Homo sapiens: one gene and its partners. The protein of the gene in region 4 purifies or fractionates together with the protein of the main gene of each other region. This does not show direct contact. Each region holds a gene or a part of one and is shown on either strand. Other genes may lie near its edges.

Region 1 (3,131 bases), on a different chromosome or scaffold from region 4:
AATGCAAACATGCTACCAACAACTAAATTCCTCAAAGTCTTTTGCTTCCCCTCCCCTATCTGAATGCATATAGAACCCACTTGAAGGAACAGGTGTGACACAGCATGTGCCAAGAGTAGACGGGCTCCCTTGTTGCTAGAAGATAACGCCAATATGGGAACCCCTGTACTGAGAACTACCTTATCTCTCCCAGCCACCTTCGGCCGCCTAGAAGTCAGACAGCTAGAGGATGCTAGAGGAAGTCCAGCTAAATTTGCCCACACAGTTTAGTAGCTATTTATTAAGTTAACACATGAGATGATTTTCCATGTGTTAACATGTACCGTTCTTGTGATCTCATTTAAACTAATGAGTCTTCAAGGTATTTTAATGCTATCCTGTCTGCAGAAAAGATGGTCAGGAAACCTTTCTGGAGGGCAATTCAGCACAATTGGTATCAAGAACTTAAAACTATAATCTAACTCCAGTAATTTACTTTAAGGAAATAAAAATGCAAAATATATGCATAAGGTTGTTCATTGTAATATATGTAATTAGAAAAACAGTACACAAAATGTTGAATATGGGAATGGCTTAGTTAAGGTATACTCACATGATAGGGTATTATACAAATATTAAAAATGGCATTTTTGAACAATATCTAATAAGTGAAATGCTTAAGATATCAAGAAATTAAAATGTAGGCTATAAAATTCTATACAATATTACCTCAACTTTGAAAAACATTTACATATTTAATACATCTACATGCATAGAAAAAAAAACTAAAAGATAGCAAATCAATTAATCTACGAGGAATTAAAATTTTTTGTTTTTTTGACTTTCAAAGTTTCTTATGTTATATACAGATTAATTTCTTTCAAGAACCAGAAGCTAAAGAGAACCAAAATCTGAAAGACCCATCCTGTGGCAGTCACTGAGCTAGGAGAATTTTACCAATTATTCAATCTCCATAGTAATCATGAGAGGTAGGAATCTCAAGTCCATCTTACAGATGAGGAACTAGGCTCCACAATTTAAGTAATTGCTCAGGGTGCCACAGATTCGAGCCTAGGCAGTCCCCATGTTTCCTGCTGCACCAAATGCCTCACCTGCTGTGGCTCCTAATAGGACGTTGGGAGACTTACAACAAAGGTCATTGACAAAACAGAGCTGTGTATAGCTTTCCCAAGAGCAATTGCTTTCTAAACTCTCTATTTCTCTCTCAAAGCAGAAAACTCTTTTAAATCCCCTGGACAAGAAATGGAATCTTCTTCACTGCTAGGGCTCGAGGTTCCATCCCAAAGCAGTTTTGATCCAGACGCCCAGCTCCACAAGTCTGTGCCCTCTCAGAGCCTACTCCCTCATAGCCGTGGTATCAGCTATCCTGCTTACTAGTTTGGCATTTTGTCAGGTTATGAGCAGAAGGACAGGGCAGACTGCACACCCCCACCCCTTCCCGCCAGCTGGCTCCTTGGTCTCTTCCTTGGATACTAAAACAAACAGGCTGTGTGCACTGGCTCCCTACATAATCCAAGGGGTGAGGGGAGCAACAAATATCCCAGCTATGTGAACAATTGGAGGAATATCTGACAACACATTTGATATTTTGTAACTGTTTCAGCCAAATAGGGTCTCCAGGCTGGGGAGTCCCTTCACACCCAAAGCCTTGTTGTTCAGCTGGGCTCTAGGTACTGCCTTGGAGAGAGCTGCCCAACCCCCCAGCTGGCTCTGTTCCACATGGATCCCAGTGATACTGGGATACTGCACATCCTCATGAAGGACATAGAGGTAGAATTTTCACTACTGTTCCAAGACCTCTTCATCGCTTCCTGTTCCCTCCCAGAGGCAGAGACAGGAAAATTATTTGGATGGTCACAGCAAGTCAGTGACGTTCAGGATTGAAGCATGCAGCGCCATAGTTCATAATTTTAAAAATAGAACTCCCTAGGGATTTTGATCTGAGAAGAGGGAGAAGGGGACATGGAGAATGGCTCATGACACCACAAAACAGCAACAGCAATAACCTGGTCCTTTTTGATTCAGACTCTTTACCTCTTTCTGTACCCACATAAGATGATTGCATGTTCACAAAAGTTTGAGAAATACTGGGTTAAACAAGGTTAAACAGATTAAGTTACTGTAGGACTTCAAAGAACTTTTAATTTGCTCACGCATACTCCAAAGATTTTATAAAAAAAGTATTTCTTAAACTTAGTTATAAAAAGAAGGATTCCATAGGCACGAGGACCCCAGTGAACAAGTTTTGGGAAGTGCTGCTCCACGGTGGGCCCATAAGAGTCTTGTAAAGATAGAAAAGTAGGCCCCAAAAACAAACTCTTTCCCACCAGCCATCAGTTACTATCTTCAAAACTGCAGTGTGGGCTCAATGTTGTCATTCTGTACTCTCCTGTCTTCAGCAGGGTTTATGGTATTTTTCCACTTGCTGGTCAAATCTCCTGGAAGAATACCCTGCCTGGAAAAAGTTCACTGGAGTCAGAAGATATTTGAGTGCTAGACCCCTGAATTCAGTAGCTAGAAGAGGGGTGCCCTTGCTGCTGTGGGACAGGGGAGAACCATGGCCCATCCAGGCACTCTGATTCCCTGTGGCTTCTGGACCTCCATCATCATCTCCCATGGGTACCAAGGGGGACCCTAAACCAATTTCCTCCCTGGTTTTTTGAGAAATAAACTCCTCATCTGTAGACCTTAAGTGCACTGAAAATCCCAGTGGGGCCGTCAACATAGTCACCCTCTTTTGAGACTCACAGAAAGGCACTGCCTTGTTCCATTCTTTGCTATAGAGATCTGGGAACAACTGCTTCTTGATCCGCAAAGGATGGTGGGAAGGCTGCTTTTCAAGGTCCGCAGGCCAGGGAGAAAGTTTCTCTTTCTTGGCCTTCTTTGAGTCTCTGTCAGCTTGAGATTGATCAGCACTTTCCTCAGGGGATTCAAACACAACACCTTGGGTTCTCGGCCTCTTTAGCCTCCTTTCTAACAGCCAGAGAAGGCTTGGTTTTCTAGAGGAAGAACTCATGTATTGCTGTACAGAGTCCGGAATCAGGGGCACGGAGATCCTGGGGCTCAGACTGTCCTGAAAGCCTCCACAGGGCCGCCGACTTACAATGGGCACCACCTGGCAAGGCTTCAGT
Region 2 (3,500 bases), on a different chromosome or scaffold from region 4:
GGTCTTTCAGGCTGACCTCCCTGACCTGCTCTTTTTAATCCTGTTTAGCCTTCCTCAAATGCTATTTTTATCATGTTGCTTGCTTGCTCAGAAACCACTAATAAACCCCTTTGGTGTCTCACAGCAGACCCAACTGCACTGCCTGATTTTCAAATGTAACCATGATTTGGGCCTAACTTTCCCAGACAATCTGGTTTCTGCAAGTCCCAGGTCCAAACCTCTACAGAGGCCAGGCCAGACTCCTCTGGGATCTACAACTTCCCTTCATTTGGAAAGCCCTGTTTCCCGCTCTTGCCTAGACAAACCTGAGCCAATCTCAAGCCCCCTGTACCCATAAAAGCTTTCTTGGGGCAGGCGCTGTGGCTCACGCCTGTAATCCCAGCGCTTTGGGAGGCCGAGGCAGGCGGATCACGAGGTCAGGAGTGAGTTCGAGACCAGCCTGGCCAACATGATGAAACCCTACCTCTACTACAAATACAAAAAATTAGCTGGGGGTGGTGGCAGGCACCTGTAATCCCAACTACTTGGGAGGCTGAGGCAGGAGAATCACTTGAACCCAGGAGGCGGAGGTTGCAGTGAGCCGAGACCGTGCCACTGCACTCCAGCCTGGGCAACAAGAACAAGACTGTGTTTCAAAAAAAAAAAAAAAAAAAAAGCTTTCTTGGGCCAGGCATGGTGGCTCACACCTGTAATCCCAACACTTTGGAAGATCAAGGCAGGAGGAGGGCTTGAGCTTAGGAGTTCGAGACCAGACTAGGCAACACAGCAAGATCCTGTCTCTATTTAAAAAAAAAAATTTTTTTTTTAAAAAGCTTTCTCAACTGATTATTCCAATCTTTACTAAATCTGTTTATTTGAACATGCACAGCATATAAATCAAGAACCACACAATTTCACAATCATGCGTTGTCATTTATCATTAATTATGTGCTTTTCTTTGTTTGTTTGCTTGGTTGTTTTTTGAGAAGGAGTTTCGTTCTTGTTGCCCAGGCTGGAGTGCAATGGTGCGATTTCAGCTCATTACAACCTCTGCCTCCCGGGTTCAAATGATTCTCCTGTCTCAGCCTCCTGAGTAGCTGGGATTATAGGCATGCACCACCATGCCTGGCTAATTTTGTATTTTTAGTAGAGACAGGGTTTCACTGTGTTGGTCAGGCTGGTCTTGAACTCCTGACCTCAGGTGATCCCCTGCCTCGGCCTCCCAAAGTGCTCGGATTACAGGCGTGAGCCACCGTGCCCGGCCAATTATGTTATTTTTGTGTCTTCCCAAATATTACAAAGTTCTTGCATATAAAGTGGGCCATGTTTTATACTTTGGTTTTTGTTTGTTGTTTGAGACAATCTCCCTCTGTCGCCCAGGCTGGAGTGCAATGGCACGATCTTGGCTCACTGCAACCTCTGCCACCCATGTTCATGCAATTCTCCTGCCTCAGCCTCCCGAGTAGCTGGGACTATAGGCGCCCGCCACCACGCCTGGCCAATCTTTTATTTTTAGTAGAGACTGGGTTTCGACATATTGGCCAGGCTGGTCTCAAACTCCTGAGCTCAAGTGATCCGCCCCCTCAGCCTCTCAAAATGCTGGGATTATAGGTGTGAGCCACTGAGCCCAGCCTATACTTTGGTTCTGACCACTAAGAAGCACAGTAGTTAGTGTTATAATGTACTACATAGTGTAACGTATGTACACCATACATTCTAGGCACCCAGTAAATATTTCAGCATTGGCAGACTGACTTCAGCCCTCAGAGGAGCCTCTCTAGGGCTTAAAGAAATAAGTCTCCAATTAGCTACAATTATTGCCAGACCCATAAGCATGATACCCTCCCATGTATCTGTTCCCTCATTATTGATTGAGTTCTGACTACTGCCCGGCTACGTTATGGTCTATGTATCTAGCCATCCTAGGCATTGGAAACCCAGCAGTTTATAGCACATGCTATTGGTGTTCAGCTCATATTTTCCTCAGAACATGCTAAAGGCCACGTTCGAACAGTTTCCTTTCTTTTTGTTTTTTTATTGAGATAGAGTCTCACTCTGTTGTCCAGGCTGGAGTGCAGTGGCACAATCTTGGCTCACTGCAACCTCTGCCTCCCAGGTTCAGGCGACTCTCGTGCCTCAGCCTCCCAAATAGCTGAGACTACAGGCGTGCGCCACTATGCCCAGGTAATTTTTTGTATTTTTAGTAGAGATGGGGTTTCACCGTGTGGGCCAGGATGGTCTCGAACTCCTGACCTCAAGTGATCTGCCTGCCTCTGCCTCCCAAAGTGCTGGGATTACAAGCATGAGCCACCGCACCCGTCCCAGTTTCCTTTCTCTGTTTTTTTGTTTGTTTTTTTTTTTGACGGAGTTTTGTTCTTGTTGCCCAGGCTGCAGGCTGGAGTACAATGGCACAATCTCGGCTCACCGCAACCTCCGCCTCTTGGGTTCAAGCTATTCTCCTGTCTAAGCCTCCCGAGTCGCTAGGATTACAGGCATGCACCACCACGCCCAGCTAATTTTGTATTTTTAGTAGAGACAGGGTTTCTCCATGTTGGTCAGGCTGGTCTCGAACTCCTGACCTCAGGTGATCCGCCCAACTCAGCCTCCCAAAGTGCTGGGATTACAGGCGCGAGCCACCGTGCCCAGCCAATTTCCTTTCTTAAAAAAATTTTTTGTAGAGACGGAGTCTGGCTGTGTTACCCAGGCAGGTCTTGATCTCCTGGCCTCAAGTAATCCTCCTGCTTCAGCCTCCTGAGTTGCTGGGATGACAGATATGAACCACAGCACCCTGGTGGACACAATTTTCTTTCTTTCTTTTTTTTTTTTTTTTGAGACGGAGTCTCGCTCTGTCACCCAGGCTGGAGTGCAGTGGCGCGATCTCGGCTCACCACAAGCTCCACCTCCCAGGTTCACGCCATTCTCCTGCCTCAGCCTCCCGAGTAGCTGGGACTACAGGCGTCCGCCACCGCGCCCAGCTAATTTTTTGTATTTTTAGTAGAGACGGGGTTTCACCATGTTAGCCAGGATGGTCTCGATCAACTGACCTCGTGATCCGCCTGCCTCAGCCTCCCAAAGTGTTGGGATTACAGGCGTGAGCCGCCGCGCCCAGCCTACACAATTTTCTTACAAGCAGTTTCCTGTGTCTCTCTTGCCTCAGATGTTCTCTGCCCACGGAAGCCTCCTTGGGAGGAGCAGAGTCAAAATGTTAGGGAATTAATTCCCCTAGAGTGATCCTGGACCCATGAGGGATGAGAGATGGTGAATAAATACCCTAGCTTCAAGGCCAAGCACAGTGGCTCACACTAGTCATCCCAGCACTTTGAGATGCCAAGGCAGGAGGATCACATGAGCCCAGGAGTTCGAGACCAGCCTGGGCAACATAGTAAGACTTCGTCTCTACAAAAAATAAAAATTAAATTAAAAATTAGCTGGGCACGGTGGCGTTTGCCTGTAGTCCCAGCTACTTAGGAGGCTGGGGTGAAAGGATCACTTGAGCCCAAGAGATTGAGGCTGAAGTGAGC
Region 3 (3,500 bases), on a different chromosome or scaffold from region 4:
AATCTCTGCTCACTGCAACATCCATCTCCTGGGTTCAAGTGATCCTTCTGCCTCAGCCTCCCGAGTAGCTGGGACTCAGGCACCCCCCACCATACCCAGCTAATTTTTTTTTTTTTTTTGTATTTTTAGTAGAGATGGGGTTTCACTATGCAAGCCAGGCTGGTCTCAAACTCCTGACTTTAGGTGACCCACCCGCCTCGGCCTCCCAAAGTGCTGGGGCTACAGCTTTGTGCCACCACTCCTGGCCTTTTTTGTAATTTTTGTAGAGATGAGGTTTCACTATGTTGCCCAGGCTGGTCTCCAACCGAGCTCAAGTGATCCGCCCCCCTGGGCCTCCCGAAGTGCCGGGGTTACAGGCGCGAGCCGCCGCGCCCGGCCCTAACGTAATTATGTAATGTGATTGTGCACTTACAGACACAGCCGGTGTATATTCCCAATAAGCCTGCCTTGTTATTTACCTAAGCCTCTCCCAACTCCTTTCAGCAGCCAGGGGGGTCTTTCTGTAGCTCGAATCTTTGGGAGTTTGGCAAGCTTAAGGAACCAAGTCTCACCGCCTCAATTTATACTCCGATTCCTTTTGCAAAGATTCGTTCTACACAGTTCTAACTTCACTGCTATTTGTATAAACGCGGCATGGCTGGATACAGTACAGCGGGCGTCCCCCGATCTACCCTCAGACTTCATTCTTTAGGAGCCCTTAGAATTACCGATCTCGGGGGTATCTGCAAGCGAAGAGGAAGAGGAGGAGGAAGAGGAGACGGAGGGCGGGGTTGGGGGGCCGGGCGTCGGCGTCCGCAGCCCCAGTTGCTCCAGCACCTCTGAGTGGTCCCCAGGGTGAATGTAGTCGAAGACGCTGCTGCCCGTCATCTCCACCTGCCGGCGAAGGAGGGGAATGCAGGGGGCGGGTGAGGTGCGCGCGCAGTAACTCGCTCGCCCTCTGGGCTCAGCCTTGCCTCATTTGCCTGCACGCAGGTGCGCTTCATGCCAGTGTGTTTTTTTAAGAAAAGAAAAAAACAAAAAACAATTACCTTTCAAACGGAAGATACAAACTTAGACTCTTCTCGCTTCATACCCAGTGATTAGTAAGGATTTTTCCCCGCCCACTCTATTAAGGGGCTGTGTGTGGGAGTGGGGCGTGGGTGGGAGGTGTCAGAACCTCCGTTTACCCAACTCCTGCTTACTCACTACCACCCCCATACAGCAAACAACTGTGCCCTGGCATGAATCACTGGGTGTCCCAGCAGGAATGAGATTCAAGATACAAACAGGGGAGTGGTTTTTAAGCTCTTAAAGAGTTAGAGCTTTTCAATCAGACACTTTTACATTCAATTCTACCCGTAAATCTCTCTCCTAGCAGTCCCCTTCTCTCCCTGCCTCCCTCAATGCAGGCCCCCATCTTCTCCCCACTGTGTTTCTGCCCCCGCGTCCTCACTGGTCTTCTGACCTACAGTTCAAAGATGCCTCTGCAAGTTACTTACCTGACCACCATGGCTGCCATGACTCCCATTGCCCCTCAGCTTGGAGGTCACATGCTTCCCTCAGTCCGTTATCCCTCTGGGCTCCGCCCCCTCATTAAATCCTCCCCCACGCCAGCTTCAACAGCTTCAAGCCTTTCCTTCTTCTTCTTCTTCTTCTTCTTCTTCTTTTTATTTTTTTAGACGGAGTTTTGCTCTTGTTGCCCAGGCTGGAGTGCAATGGCGCGATCTCGGCTCACCGTGACCTCTGCCTCCCAGGTTCAAGCAATTCTCCCGCCTCGGCCTCCCAAGAAGCTGGGATTACAGGCATGTGCCAACACACCTGGCTAATTTTGTATTTTTAGTACAGACGGGGTTTCTCCATGTTGGTCAGGCTGGTCTCAAACTCCCGACCTCAGGTGATCTGCCCGCCTCAGCCTCCCAAAGTGCTGGGTTTACGGGCATGAGCCACCGCGCCTGGACTTTTTTTGTTTTGTTTTGTTTTTGAGATGGGGTTTTGCTCTCGTTGCCCAGGCTGGAGTGCAATGGTGCAATCTTGGCTCACTGCAACCTCTGCCTCCTGGGTTCAAGTGATTCTTCTGCCTCAGCCTCTGGAGTAGCTGGGACTATAGGCATCTGCCAGCACACCCGGCTAATTTTGTATTTTTAGTAGAGACTGGGTTTCGCCATGTTGCCCAGGTTGGTCTCGAACTCCTGACCTCAGGTGATCTGCCTGCTTTTGCCTCCCAAAGTGCTGGGATTACAGGCGTGAGCCACCACACCTGGCCAAGCTTTTCCTCCACTCTTCCTCCCTCCCGTCCTCTTGTCCAAATTCCCCTCCTTTTGGTGTCTTCCTCCTCCAGGAATCTCACTGAAAAGGTACTCACAAGTTGCCAATGCACTGAATTTCCTAAATTTCCTATTTGTGAAAAATATTTGTAAAAATGATCAAAGTTGATAGCAATTTGTATTGGAGGGACTGGCAAAGCTTAAGGTGCTGTGAGATGCCAGGGCTCCAAGGATGGGGCTTTCAGTAGGTCTTCCTGCCCTTTTTTTTTTTTTTTTTTTGAGACGGAGTTTTGCTCTTGTTGCCCAGGCTGGAGTGCAATGCCACGATCTCGGCTCACTGTACCCTCCACTTCCTGGGTTCAAGTGATTATCTTGCCTCAGCCTCCCGAGTAGCTGGGATTACAGGTGTCTGCCACCACGCCTGGCTAATTTTGTATTTTTTGTTTTTTAGTAGAGAGACGGGGTTTCTCCATGTTGGTCAGGCTGGTCTTGAATTCCCAACCTCAGGTGATTTGCCTGCCTCGGCCTCCCAAAGTGCTGGGATTACAGGCGTGAGCCACCGCGCCCGGCCCTTTTTTTTTTTTTTTTTTTTTTTTTTTTTTTTTTTTTTTTTTTTTTAAGGCATAGCCTCACTTTGTTGTCCATGTTGGAGTGCAGTGGCTTCATCATGGCTCACTGCCACCTTGACCCTATGGGCTCAAGCGATCCTCCCATCTCAACCTCCTGAGTAGCTGGGACAACAGTGTGCCACCATGCCTGGCTAATTTTTAAGTTTTTTTGTAGAGATGGTGGGGGTGGGGGTGGTGGGGTGTCTCACTATGTTGCCCAGGCTGGTTTTGAATTCCTGGCCTCAGGTGATCCTCCTGGCTCAGCCTCCCAAAGTGTTGGGATTACAGGCATGAGCCAGCGTGGGTGGCCTCTAAACCTTTAAAATTGTTAAGAAGAAACAAGTGTTGGCAAATATGGTGCATCTGGCCCGCCAGTCATTGGCAAACTGATCTTTCAGTGAACCTGCTTTCCTCAGATCTACTTGTTACTTTAATAGCCCCCTCAGGCTGGGCGCGGTGGCTCACGCTGTAATCCCAGCACTTTGGGAGGCTGAGGCAGGCGGATTGCCTGAGATTGAGAGTTCAAGACAAGCCTGACCAACATGAAGAAACCCTGTCTCTATTTAAAAAATACAAAGTTAGCTAGGCGTGGTGGTGCATGTCTGTAATCCCAGCTACTCGGGAGGCTGAGGCAGGAGAATCGCTTGAA
Region 4 (3,500 bases):
CAGGTTAAAACCAATTACCATCATCATTTATTTTTATGCTCAAATTGTCCCAGATTTCAGCCACTTCAACCTGGGAACTCCATCATTTTGACATATCGACATCATTTGTTGAATATTTCCTTACTCTCTGGCACAAAAAGATGGTCCAGGCTCATCTTCTGCATTCCCTGACCTAATCCTTTTAGAGAGCATGGTATTTAGAAACCAATGTCCAGGTACTTGGTATGATCACTGCTACTAGAACATCATAGTTTTTTTTTGCCGGGGGGGGGGGGGGGGGGGTAAGGTCACAGATCAACAGGATAAGAATTTTTCTTAGTACAGAACAAAATGAAAAGTCTCCCATGTCTACCTCTTTCTACACAGACACGGCAACCATCCGATTTCTCAATCTTTTCCCCACCTTTCCCCCCTTCTGTTCCACAAAACCGCCATTGTCATCATGGCCCGTTCTCAATGAGCTGTTGGGTACACCTCCCAGACGGGGTGGTGGCCAGGCAGAGGGGCTCCTCACTTCCCAGTAGGGGCGGCTGGGCAGAGGGCTCCTCACTTCCCAGTAGGGGCGGCCGGGCAGAGGCGCCCCTCACCTCCCGGACGGGGCGGCTGGCCGGGCTGGGGGCTGACCCCCCCACCTCCCTCCTGGACGGGGCGACTGGCTGGGCAGAGGAGCTCCTCACTTCCCAGTAGGGGCGGCCGGGCAGAGGTGCCCCTCACCTCCCGGACGGGGCGGCTGGCCGGGCGGGGGGCTGACCCCCCCACCTCCCTCCCGGACGGGGCGGCTGGCCTGGCGGGGGCTGACCCCCACCTCCCTCCCGGACGGGGTGGCTGCTGGGCGGAGACGCTCCTCACTTCCCAGACAGGGTGACTGCCGGGACGGAGGGGCTCCTCACTTCTCAGATGGGGCGGCTTCCGGGCGGAGGGGCTCCTCACTTCTCAGACGGGCGGTTGCCAGGCGGAGGGTCTCCTCACTTCTCAGACGGGGCGGCCGGGCAGAGACGCTCCTCACCTCCCAGACGGGGTCGCGGCCGGGTGGAGGTGCTCCTCACATCCCAGACGGGGCGGCAGGGCAGAGGCTCTCCCCACATCTCAGACGATGGGCGGCCGGGCAGAGACGCTCCTCACTTCCTAGATGGGATGGCGACCGGGAAGAGGCGCTCGTCACTTCCTAGATGGGATGGCGGCCGGGCAGAGACGCTCCTCACTTTCCAGACTGGGCAGCCAGGCAGAGGGGCTCCTCACGTCCCAGACGACGGGCGGCCAGGCAGAGACGCTCCTCACTTCCCAGACGGGGTGGCGGCCAGGCAGAGGCTGCAATCTCGGCACTTTGGGAGGCCAAGGCAGGCAGCTGGGAGGTGGAGGTTGTAGCGAGCCGAGATCACACCACTGCACTCCAGCCTGGGCACCATTGAGCACTGAGTGAACCAGACTCCGTCTGCAATCCCAGCACCCCGGGAGGCCAAGGCTGGCGGATCACTCGCGGTTAGGAGCTGGAGACCAGCCCGGCCAACACAGCGAAACCCCGTCTCCACCAAAAAAATACGAAAACCAGTCAGGCGTGGCGTCGCGCGCCTGCAATCGCAGGCACTCGGCAGGCTGAGGCAGGAGAATCAGGCAGGGAGGTTGCAGTGAGCCGAGATGGCAGCAGTACAGTCCAGCTTCGGCTGGGCATCAGAGGGAGACCGTGGAAAGAGAGGGAGAGGGAGACCGTGGGGAGAGGGAGAGGGAGAGGGAGAGCAATCCTATTTTTTTAACTAAATATGAGAACATCATAGTTTTTAGGCTGCCTTAGGAGACAGCTAGAAAATATGTGTATGTATACATATACACATACTATCTCTATCTATTTGTTCATATATATTGTTTAAAAAAAGTCATGATTCATAATAACACCAATTCCAATCCAATACCTTAGAGTTTTTTCTTGCCTTCCCCCTTTCCATGGTTATAAATCCCTCATCCAACAGTGAGAAGCATAACTCTTATTATCCTTAATATATTCATTCATTTGCTCAATCTATTTACTTATTTGCTCAACATAACCAATCTCCCAATCACACCAGCCCCTGTGTGTTTGCTGCCCTATTTATCACAGCTGTCTTCTTGTTGGAATGCTGATACCTCCATGCCTGGTAAAGAATGGAGGGGAAGGGAAAGGAAAGAAATAAGGATGGGGAGAGAAAAATAGGAAAGGTGGGGAAAGGAGTGAGGGGAAGATGGGAAAAGGCAAGGGAAGGGAAAATGGGAAAAGAAAGGAAAGAAAGGGAAGCAGACACTCACCTTTAAAACACCTTCCACAGCCATCTTCCCTTCATGACCTAGTAAAATACTATATGGATAAAGCCACTGGATTGCATGTTTGATTGGCATCATAGGAAAGGAATCCTATGTAGGAGCAAAAATACATAGGAATGAGCAAAATTCAAAATAATCACAGAAAACATCTGAAATGTACATATGACATTAAAATTGACTTATAAAAGTAACCAATAGGTGTCTGGTATTTTCTGTAAGTCTACAAAAGCAAATATTCATTATTTTCTCTTCTCATTCCTTGCCCTTTCTCTGGGTAAGCTTACCCATTCCCATCTTTCATTTATCTTCTATGTATTGATGGCTCCCACACTTCTATGTCTGGTCTTGACTTCTTTCTTGAGCTCTAAACCTGAACCCTCAATTGTTCATTACATGTGACTATATGAATATCCCATAGACCCCCATTTGAAACAGAATACATGTCTCTACCTTATTCATCCCAAAGTACCTGATCCCTTTTTATTCCTAAGTTAATCTCATCCACATTCACTTAGCTTCACAGTTATAACTACAAAATTAGAAAGTATTCATTATCCTCAAATCCTTCCTCACATTATCTGCACTGTCAATTCTGTTCACCCCACTTTAAAAGTCTGTTGACAAGAAAGATTAGTGAAATTTCAATATGAACTATCTATTAGATGATACTATGGATTACTGTTAACATGATATGAAGTGTGATAATGTTGTTCTGGTTATGTAGAAGAATGTCCTAATTCTTAGAAGTTGCATACTGATATGGTTTGGCTGTGTCCCCACCCAAATCTCATCTTGAATTGTAGCTCCCACAATCCCCACGTGTCATGGGAGGGACCCAGTGGGAGACAACTGAATCATGGAGGCAGTTAACCTCCATGCTGTTCTCATGATAGTGAGTTCTCATGAGATCTGATGGCTTTATAAAGGGCTTTTCCCCTCCTTCACTCTGCACTTTTCTCTCCTGCCACCATGTGAAGGACGTGTTTGCTTCCTCTTCCACCACGATTGTAAGTTTCCTGAGGCCTCCATAGCCTTGCAGAACTGTGAGTCAATTAAACCTCTTTTCTTTATAAATTACCCAGTCTCAGGTATTTCTTCATAGCAGCGGGAGAACGAACTGATACACACACTGAAGTATTTAAGAGTACTGACTGCAATTTACTTCCAAATGGTTCAGGAAAAAAAAAAAGAAAAAAGCACATGCAAAC
Region 5 (3,500 bases), on a different chromosome or scaffold from region 4:
CCATCTTCTCTGAGTGCCTCCCATTGGCTCAATCCCACTGGAAGCCAGAAGGCCTGGGGAACTGGGACAACAGGGACCAATACGTGTCAGAGAAGGACAGACGATGGACCTGGTGGGTGTGTGGGGCAAATGGAGGACCTCCTGTATACCCCCAGCACCCCCAGGCTTGGGACTCTTGCTGGCATCTGCACCTTTGTAGTGGCAGTGCCCTACTGGATAAACCTGTCAGTCCTTCTCCACCTGGCAAACTCCTGCATCTTCAGTCTCATTTGGACATTCCCGTTTCTGTACCTCCATCGTGGTACTCAACACACAGCAATCAAGACTGCCTGCCCACGACTCTGCCCCCTCCCTGGACCAAGCTCCTTCAAGGAGTGACCCCATCTTTTAATTGTTGAGAGCACGCAGTAAATGGCAGGTGAGCAGGGCTAGGGTGACATGAGTGAGGCAGTAGCCCTTGGTGTGAGATTTAAGCGGGGGAGGAAGGGAGTTTGCTAGAAATCTTAGTAATCAAGACAAAATATTTGAATACAATATTTAAAAAAAAATCAAATCATCAAACTACAGCCCATGGGTTGGCTACCTCTTTTGAGCGCCCACCCAAACTGGAATAGCTCCCAAGACCTCTAGCATGGTGTTCAAAAATTATTTTTGAGTTGGGCGCAGTGGCTTATGCCTGTAATCTCAGCACTTTGGGAGGCCGAGGCGGGCTGATCACTAGGTCAGGAGATTGAGATCATCCTGGCTAACGCGGTGAAACCCCGTCTGTACTAAAATTACAAAAAATTAGCTGAGCTTGGTGGCACGCACCTGTAGTCCCAGCTACTCGGGAGGCTGAGGCAGGAGAATTTCTTGAACCCAGGAGGCGGAGGTTGCAGTGAGCAACCTCCACTCCAGCCTGGGCGACAGAGCGAGACTCTGTCTCAAAAAAAAAAAAAAAGGGTTCACAATGCAGGACTCATCTTTACTTAACATACCCTCTATTCACCCTGATATTTTCTATTCTAGTCTAGTTTATTTGGCGTCATTAAAAAGTGCTGCTCATACCTTTCTTTTCTTTTCTTTCTTTTTTCTTTTTTTTGAGATAGAGTTTCACTCTTGTTGCCCAGGCTGGAGTGCAATGGCATGATCTTGGCTCACCACAACCTCTGCCTCCTGGGTTCAAGCGATTCTCCTGCCTCAGCCTCCCGAGTAGCTGGGATTACAGACATGTGACACCATGCCTGGCTAATTTTGTATTTTTAGTAGAGACGGGGTTTCTCCATGTTGGCCAGGCTGGCCTCAAACTCCCAACCTCAGGTGATCCGCCCGCCTCAGCCTCCCAAAGTCCTGGGATTATAAGCGTGAGCCACCATGCCCAGCCTGCCCATAACCTTTCAAATTCTGGCTTGAAAAACATTGAGCCTGTCATATCATCCTGCTTAATTTTCTCTGCTTTTAGCTGCCTGATACTTCCTTCTTATGATTTGTCTCTTTGCTGATCTCCCGTCTTGCCTTCGGGGTACAGCTCCCTGAAAGCAGGAACCCCATCTAGCTTGTCACTGCTGTCTTCTCAGCTCCGGGAACAGCGTCTGGCACGTAGGCGGCAGGTGTCCCGCAGTGAGCTGTTGAGCAAGCGAGTGAGTGGTGTTGGAGCAGAGGGGATGTGGGCCCTGGAAGCCAGGCTTTTCTAATTGCCTTGTTTTCCTCCCCTTCCCAGTTTGCCCTGGGGCCCCAGCCTGGCCCGGGTCACCCTGGCATGAGGAGATGGGCCTGTTGCTCCTGGTCCCGTTGCTCCTGCTGCCCGGCTCCTACGGACTGCCCTTCTACAACGGCTTCTACTACTCCAACAGCGCCAACGACCAGAACCTAGGCAACGGTCATGGCAAAGGTAGGCGACCTCCTGCACCCGGCTCTTTGCTCCCCTGGGTGACCTAGACCTCCTTGGCTCTTGCTGTGATCTGAGGGTTCCAGGCTGGGACAGGGACAGCAGCCCTGTTCCAGCAGGGCCCTTGTAGTGGGCCAGCTTGCTTCTCAGACAGGGGAAGGGGTGAGTTCATTTTCCTGTGTTCGCCAGCCCCTTCGTCATGGGGCCCAATTCACTTAGGCTTTTTACTTTCCCTAAAAGTCTTGCCAGTTGTTCAAGGTCCAGCTTGAATGTGTCCTCCCCTGGTCCCCCCAGTGGAAAGGGGACCTGGGGTCGAATAGATGTGAGTTTGAATGTTTTTTTTGTTTGTTTTTGAGATAAAGTCTCACTCTGTTGCCGAGGCTGGAGTGCAATGGCACGATCTCGGCTCACTGCAACCTCTGCCTCCCGGGTTCAAGCGATTCTCCTGCCTCGGCCTCCCGAGTAGCTGGGATTACAAGCATGTGCCACCATGCCTGGCTACTTTTTGTATTTTTAGTAGAGAAGGGGTTTCACCATGTTGGCCAGGCTGGTCTTGAACTCCTGACCTCAGGTGATCCACCTGCCTCGACCTCCCAAATTGCTGGGATTACAGGCATAAGCCACCATGCCTGGCCCGAGTTTGAATCTTATAATTCTACCTCTTACTAGCTGTGTGGCCTTGGGCAGGGAACGTTTTAAAGTAGCAGTTATTGTGCACCCAACATGGGTTGGGCGCGCTTCTAGATATTTTGCATATGTCGTCTCCTGTAATCACAAAAGCCCTGATGTAGGCAAGGGTGAAAATATACCTTTTTTTTTTTTTTTTTAAGATGGAGTCTCACTTTGTTGTCCAGGCTGGAGTGCAGTGGCGCGATCTTGGCTCACTGCAGCCTCTGCCTCCCAGGTTCAAGCGATTCTCCTGCCTCAGCCTCCCAAGCAGCTGGGATTACAGGCATCTGCCACCACACCTGGCTAATTTTTGTACTTTTAGTAGAAATGGGGGTTTCTCCATGTTGGCCAGGCTGGTCCTGAACTCTTGACCTCAGGTGATCCACCCGCCTCAGCCTCCCAAAATGCTGGGATTACAGGCGTGAGCCAACGAGCCTTGCCGAAAATACACATTTTTAACCATTAGTGCAGCACGGGTGCTGACCAGGCTGAATTGATGCTGTCTGCCCTCACAGCCTGAAAGTAGATTCTATTATCATCCCTTCTCATAGATGAGCAAACTAGGCTCAGAGAGTTGATCCAGTTGTCCAGGTCAAACAGCTATTAAAAAGACAAAGCTGAGGGCTGGGTGCAGTGGCTCATGCCTATAATCCCAGCACTTTGGGAGACTGAGGTGAGTGGATCACTTGAGGTCAGGAGTTCAAGGCCAGCCTGGCCAACATACCGAAACCCTCTACTAAAGATACAAAAAATTGGCCAGGCGCGGTGACTCACACCTGTAATCCCAGCACTTAAGGAGGCCGAGGTGGATGGATCACGAGGTCAAGAGATCAAGACCATTCTGACCAACCTGGTGAAATCCTGTCTCTACTAAAAATACAAAAGTAGCCGGGCGTGGTGGCAGGTGCCTTTAATCCCAGCTTCTCAGGAGGCTGAGGCAGGAGAATTGCTTGAACCTGGGAGG
Region 6 (3,500 bases), 6.4 Mb from region 4:
TAATAAAATATTTTGAGAAACCACCTTCACATAACTTTTATTATAGTATTTTGTTATAACTGTTTTATTATTATTGTCGTTAATCTATTACTGTGGCTAATTTGTAAATTAAATTTTAACATATGTATATATGTACACTAACAGGAAAAAACATAGTATATACAGGGTTTGGTACTATATGCAGTTTCAGACATCCACTGGGGGTCTTGGCATGTATCCCCCACGGATAAGGGGGGACTACTGTCCTATAAGATCATGTTAATTTTCTTAGATGTGATAATTATGTGGTTACGTAGGAGGACAACTCATTCTTGAGAGATAATAGCATAAGTACTTATGTCAAATGACAGAAAAAGAGATGAAGCAAATATGGCAATATTTGGAACAAAGTGGAGGATTTTGGGTATTCAACTTTTCTGCATTACATAAAAATGCTCAAAAGCTGGGGAAAAATATAGAATGAGAACTTAAAAACAGATTAACAAAATTATTGATTTTGAAAATGCTACCAAGAAACAGGAACATAAATTACCTCTTATCTAAGAAAATGTGGGAACATATAAAAAATATTAGTTTGCCAGCAAAGGAGGAACAGTCATGAGGTGGGCTTTAAGAGTAGGTAAGGCAAGGGGAAGGAGAGATAAGATATGAGAAGGCTGCATCAGCAGGGTCTGCTTCAGACATAGCAGAGCCCACCAAATGCTGACAGTTTATTAAACTAAACTCTAAATATAATAAATTAGCAAATATTGAAATTAAAACTACAAAAAGCATAAACTACAGAACCTGCATTCTTTCTACAATTCTGGACACTTGGCTCACCTTGTTAAAGTCATGAACAATGTTGGCAGGATCACTATCTGCAAACTCTGGGACAGGCACACTGATAAATTCAACTTCTTCTTCTTCAAAGATTTTAATATTTTCTTCAATTGTCTGGTAGAGAGCAGCTGGGGCATCTGCAGAGGGCTCATTTAAGATGACATCATCTTTGATGTACTTTATTCCACAGTAGTACACGTCATCTGGCTATAGAGAGTTTAAAGACTCATTTCAGCAATTCAGCATGAGACAGGTTTTTAAATAAGCATTACTTAAGCTGCCACCTCTATCTAAATAGCATTTTGCTTGCAAACTCTTGCTTTTAGATGACAAGTCAGACAGTTTAATTACAGAGTTAACATATTCTTTAAGATCAGGTTTTGAAGCACTGTAAAAGAACAGCTTCAGAAGAAAGGCAGCTGGTTTTCCCTTTACTTTTCCTGGTAGGTGAAAATAGAACATAAAAATAATTAGCTATCCAGTAACAAATAAATATAAAGAAACAACAGACCTACTCTACCTGTAAGCAGTTTTTATAGAAGAATACATTCCAAAACTAGTCAAGTTTTTCTGAAAGAATATATTAAAAAGTTTTGATATGGTCTACTAATTAAATGACTTTTTTCTTATTAGCCAAAAAAGGGATAATTTTTCTGAAATTTCTATATGCATATACGTAGTTCTACTTTTCCCTTTATATCACAATTCAGTGGAAAATATTAGATTACAGCAAATCTTTATGCTACTGTCTCACTTTTACAAAAAGAAAAAACAGTACATAAGGTCGGGTGCAGTAACTCATGCCTGTAATCCTAATACTTTGTGGGGAGGAGGCCTGAGACAGATGGACTGCTTGAGCCCAGGAGTTCAAGACCAGCCTGGGCAACATGGTGAGACCCTGTCTCCACAAAAAATAAAAAAATTAGCTGGGTATGGTGCCACGCACCTGTAGTCCTAGCTACTCCTGGGGAGGTTGAGGCGGGAGGATTGCCTGAGCCCAAGAGGTTGAGGCTACAGTGAGCTGTGATTGCACCACCGCACTCCAGCCTGGATGACAGAGTGAGACCCCATCTCAAAAAAAGCCAAACACACAGTACATGTACACGTGCGCGCACGCACACGCGCGCGCACACACACACACACACACACACACTACACACACTACACACACAATAAAGACTAAGGGTATACAAAATGTGAATGCACAGGGCCAGGCATGGTGTGTCACGCCTGTAATCCTAGCACTTTGGGAGGCCAAGGTGGGTGGATCGCCTGAGGTCAGGAGTTTGAGACCAGCCTGGCCAACATGATGAAACCCTGTCTCTACTAAAAGTACAAAAATTAGCCAGGAGTGGTGGCAGGTGCCTGTAATCTCAGCTACTTGGGAGGCTGAGGCAGGAGAATTGCCTGAACCCGGGAGACAGAGGGTGCAGTGAGCCGAGATCGCGCCATTGGACTCCAGTCTGGGCAACAAGAGAGAAACTCTGTCTCAAGAAAAAAAAAAAAGTTAATGCACCAAATGTTATCTCTGGAAAATGGAATTGCGATGATTTTTTCTATACTATATGTATTTCTTGTAAATAAAACTGTATTTAAAAAGATGACTAGTATTTTGGTAATGTCTATCAACATGTGATTGATTATCTTGAACAACACAGAAAATGAGCATGAAATTGAGAATGTTTCAAAATTAGTTAAATTATTTTAATAAGTCTAGTTGTCAACTGTTTCTCCAAATTTTGAAACAGCTGAAGTAGTCATAAAACCTTGAAAGTAATTTCCCCTTCAAAACTCCTAAAAAAAAAAATTGTGTATTATTGCCAAGAGAAATATATTACAAAATAGATTGTAAATTATAATCAATCACAAGGAAGACCTTTGTCTTAACCCACTGGGATTACTATTAAACACTCAAAGTTATAAACAACTTTCATCCTATGTTATTTCAATATCACTGCTGAAGTCACCCAGTTCTTTAGTGAAACCATGACTGGAAAAGAAGCAGAGACATGGTCTTACTGTATTCTGGGCCCAAGGGTACAGCAGGACCATAGGGGAGTCCAAGCTGACTATCAAGTTATGGCCTATCAACATGAAAACATTTGTGGCTGATGTATTTATTCAACTGGCAATTGATAATACTATTCCTCTCAACCCTTAATTATAGTAGGAAAATAAAGGTTAGTAAAATCACCCAATGACCTAAATAAATCCCTTAGTCACCAACATTTCAAGTTACTCTGCTTTTAGTGACTGTGTGTGATGGGCTCAGCAAACATATCATGGAGAGATGTTTAAACACAGCTTTAAAATAGAACTACCACTCTGGCTGAAGGTCACAGATAAAAAGTACAAGCTTAGCGCAAGTTGTAAACAATTTTGTAATGCACATCGGGAGAGGCAAAAAAAAAAAAAAATCAGAGACACAAAATAATTTTTCCACTTACTTGAAGTGCAAAATATTTGTACAAGTATGCTCCTCCTAGAATAACACCTGCAAGCATAAATGCTAGTCCAAAGCACATGCACCAACACCAGGCTCTTCTTTGGCCAACTGGTACCACATCATCTGGGTCCTAAAATATGAAAAAGACAGTTAAATATCTTATCTCCAGACAGAATAACAGAAGGCTCAGGACTAGAAAAACCTTAATGATTATCATTTTAATAAATGAAGA

Evidence for each region.
Region 1: the proteins of VWA8 (region 4) and DCLRE1B purify together in Homo sapiens (co-immunoprecipitation; one large-scale study listed by IntAct). This does not show direct contact.
Region 2: the proteins of VWA8 (region 4) and SIRT4 purify together in Homo sapiens (co-immunoprecipitation; one large-scale study listed by IntAct). This does not show direct contact.
Region 3: the proteins of VWA8 (region 4) and NPAS1 purify together in Homo sapiens (co-immunoprecipitation; one large-scale study listed by IntAct). This does not show direct contact.
Region 5: the proteins of VWA8 (region 4) and HAPLN3 purify together in Homo sapiens (co-immunoprecipitation; one large-scale study listed by IntAct). This does not show direct contact.
Region 6: the proteins of VWA8 (region 4) and ITM2B purify together in Homo sapiens (co-immunoprecipitation; one large-scale study listed by IntAct). This does not show direct contact.

What each region holds. Positions count from the first base shown.
Region 1 is NC_000001.11:113,911,456-113,914,586, reverse strand, and holds the end of DCLRE1B (5' exonuclease Apollo), read right to left. Parts: coding exon 2,396-3,131; 3' UTR 501-2,395; downstream 1-500.
Region 2 is NC_000012.12:120,305,321-120,308,820, reverse strand, and holds part of SIRT4 (NAD-dependent protein lipoamidase sirtuin-4, mitochondrial), read right to left. Parts: intron 1-3,500. UniProt on the Homo sapiens protein: Acts as a NAD-dependent protein lipoamidase, biotinylase, deacetylase and ADP-ribosyl transferase. Catalyzes more efficiently removal of lipoyl- and biotinyl- than acetyl-lysine modifications.
Region 3 is NC_000019.10:47,033,337-47,036,836, reverse strand, and holds part of NPAS1 (neuronal PAS domain-containing protein 1), read right to left. Parts: intron 1,521-3,500; exon of another isoform or gene 1,479-1,520; intron 874-1,478; coding exon 708-873; intron 1-707. UniProt on the Homo sapiens protein: May control regulatory pathways relevant to schizophrenia and to psychotic illness. May play a role in late central nervous system development by modulating EPO expression in response to cellular oxygen level.
Region 4 is NC_000013.11:41,881,110-41,884,609, forward strand, and holds part of VWA8 (von Willebrand factor A domain-containing protein 8 isoform a precursor), read right to left. Parts: intron 2,383-3,500; coding exon 2,278-2,382; intron 1-2,277. UniProt on the Homo sapiens protein: Exhibits ATPase activity in vitro.
Region 5 is NC_000015.10:88,885,545-88,889,044, reverse strand, and holds part of HAPLN3 (hyaluronan and proteoglycan link protein 3 isoform 2 precursor), read left to right. Parts: exon of another isoform or gene 1-1,619; intron 1,620-1,699; coding exon of another isoform or gene 1,700-1,746; coding exon 1,747-1,870; intron 1,871-3,500. UniProt on the Homo sapiens protein: May function in hyaluronic acid binding.
Region 6 is NC_000013.11:48,253,706-48,257,205, reverse strand, and holds part of ITM2B (integral membrane protein 2B), read right to left. Parts: intron 3,399-3,500; coding exon 3,270-3,398; intron 1,030-3,269; coding exon 823-1,029; intron 1-822. UniProt on the Homo sapiens protein: Plays a regulatory role in the processing of the amyloid-beta A4 precursor protein (APP) and acts as an inhibitor of the amyloid-beta peptide aggregation and fibrils deposition. Plays a role in the induction of neurite outgrowth.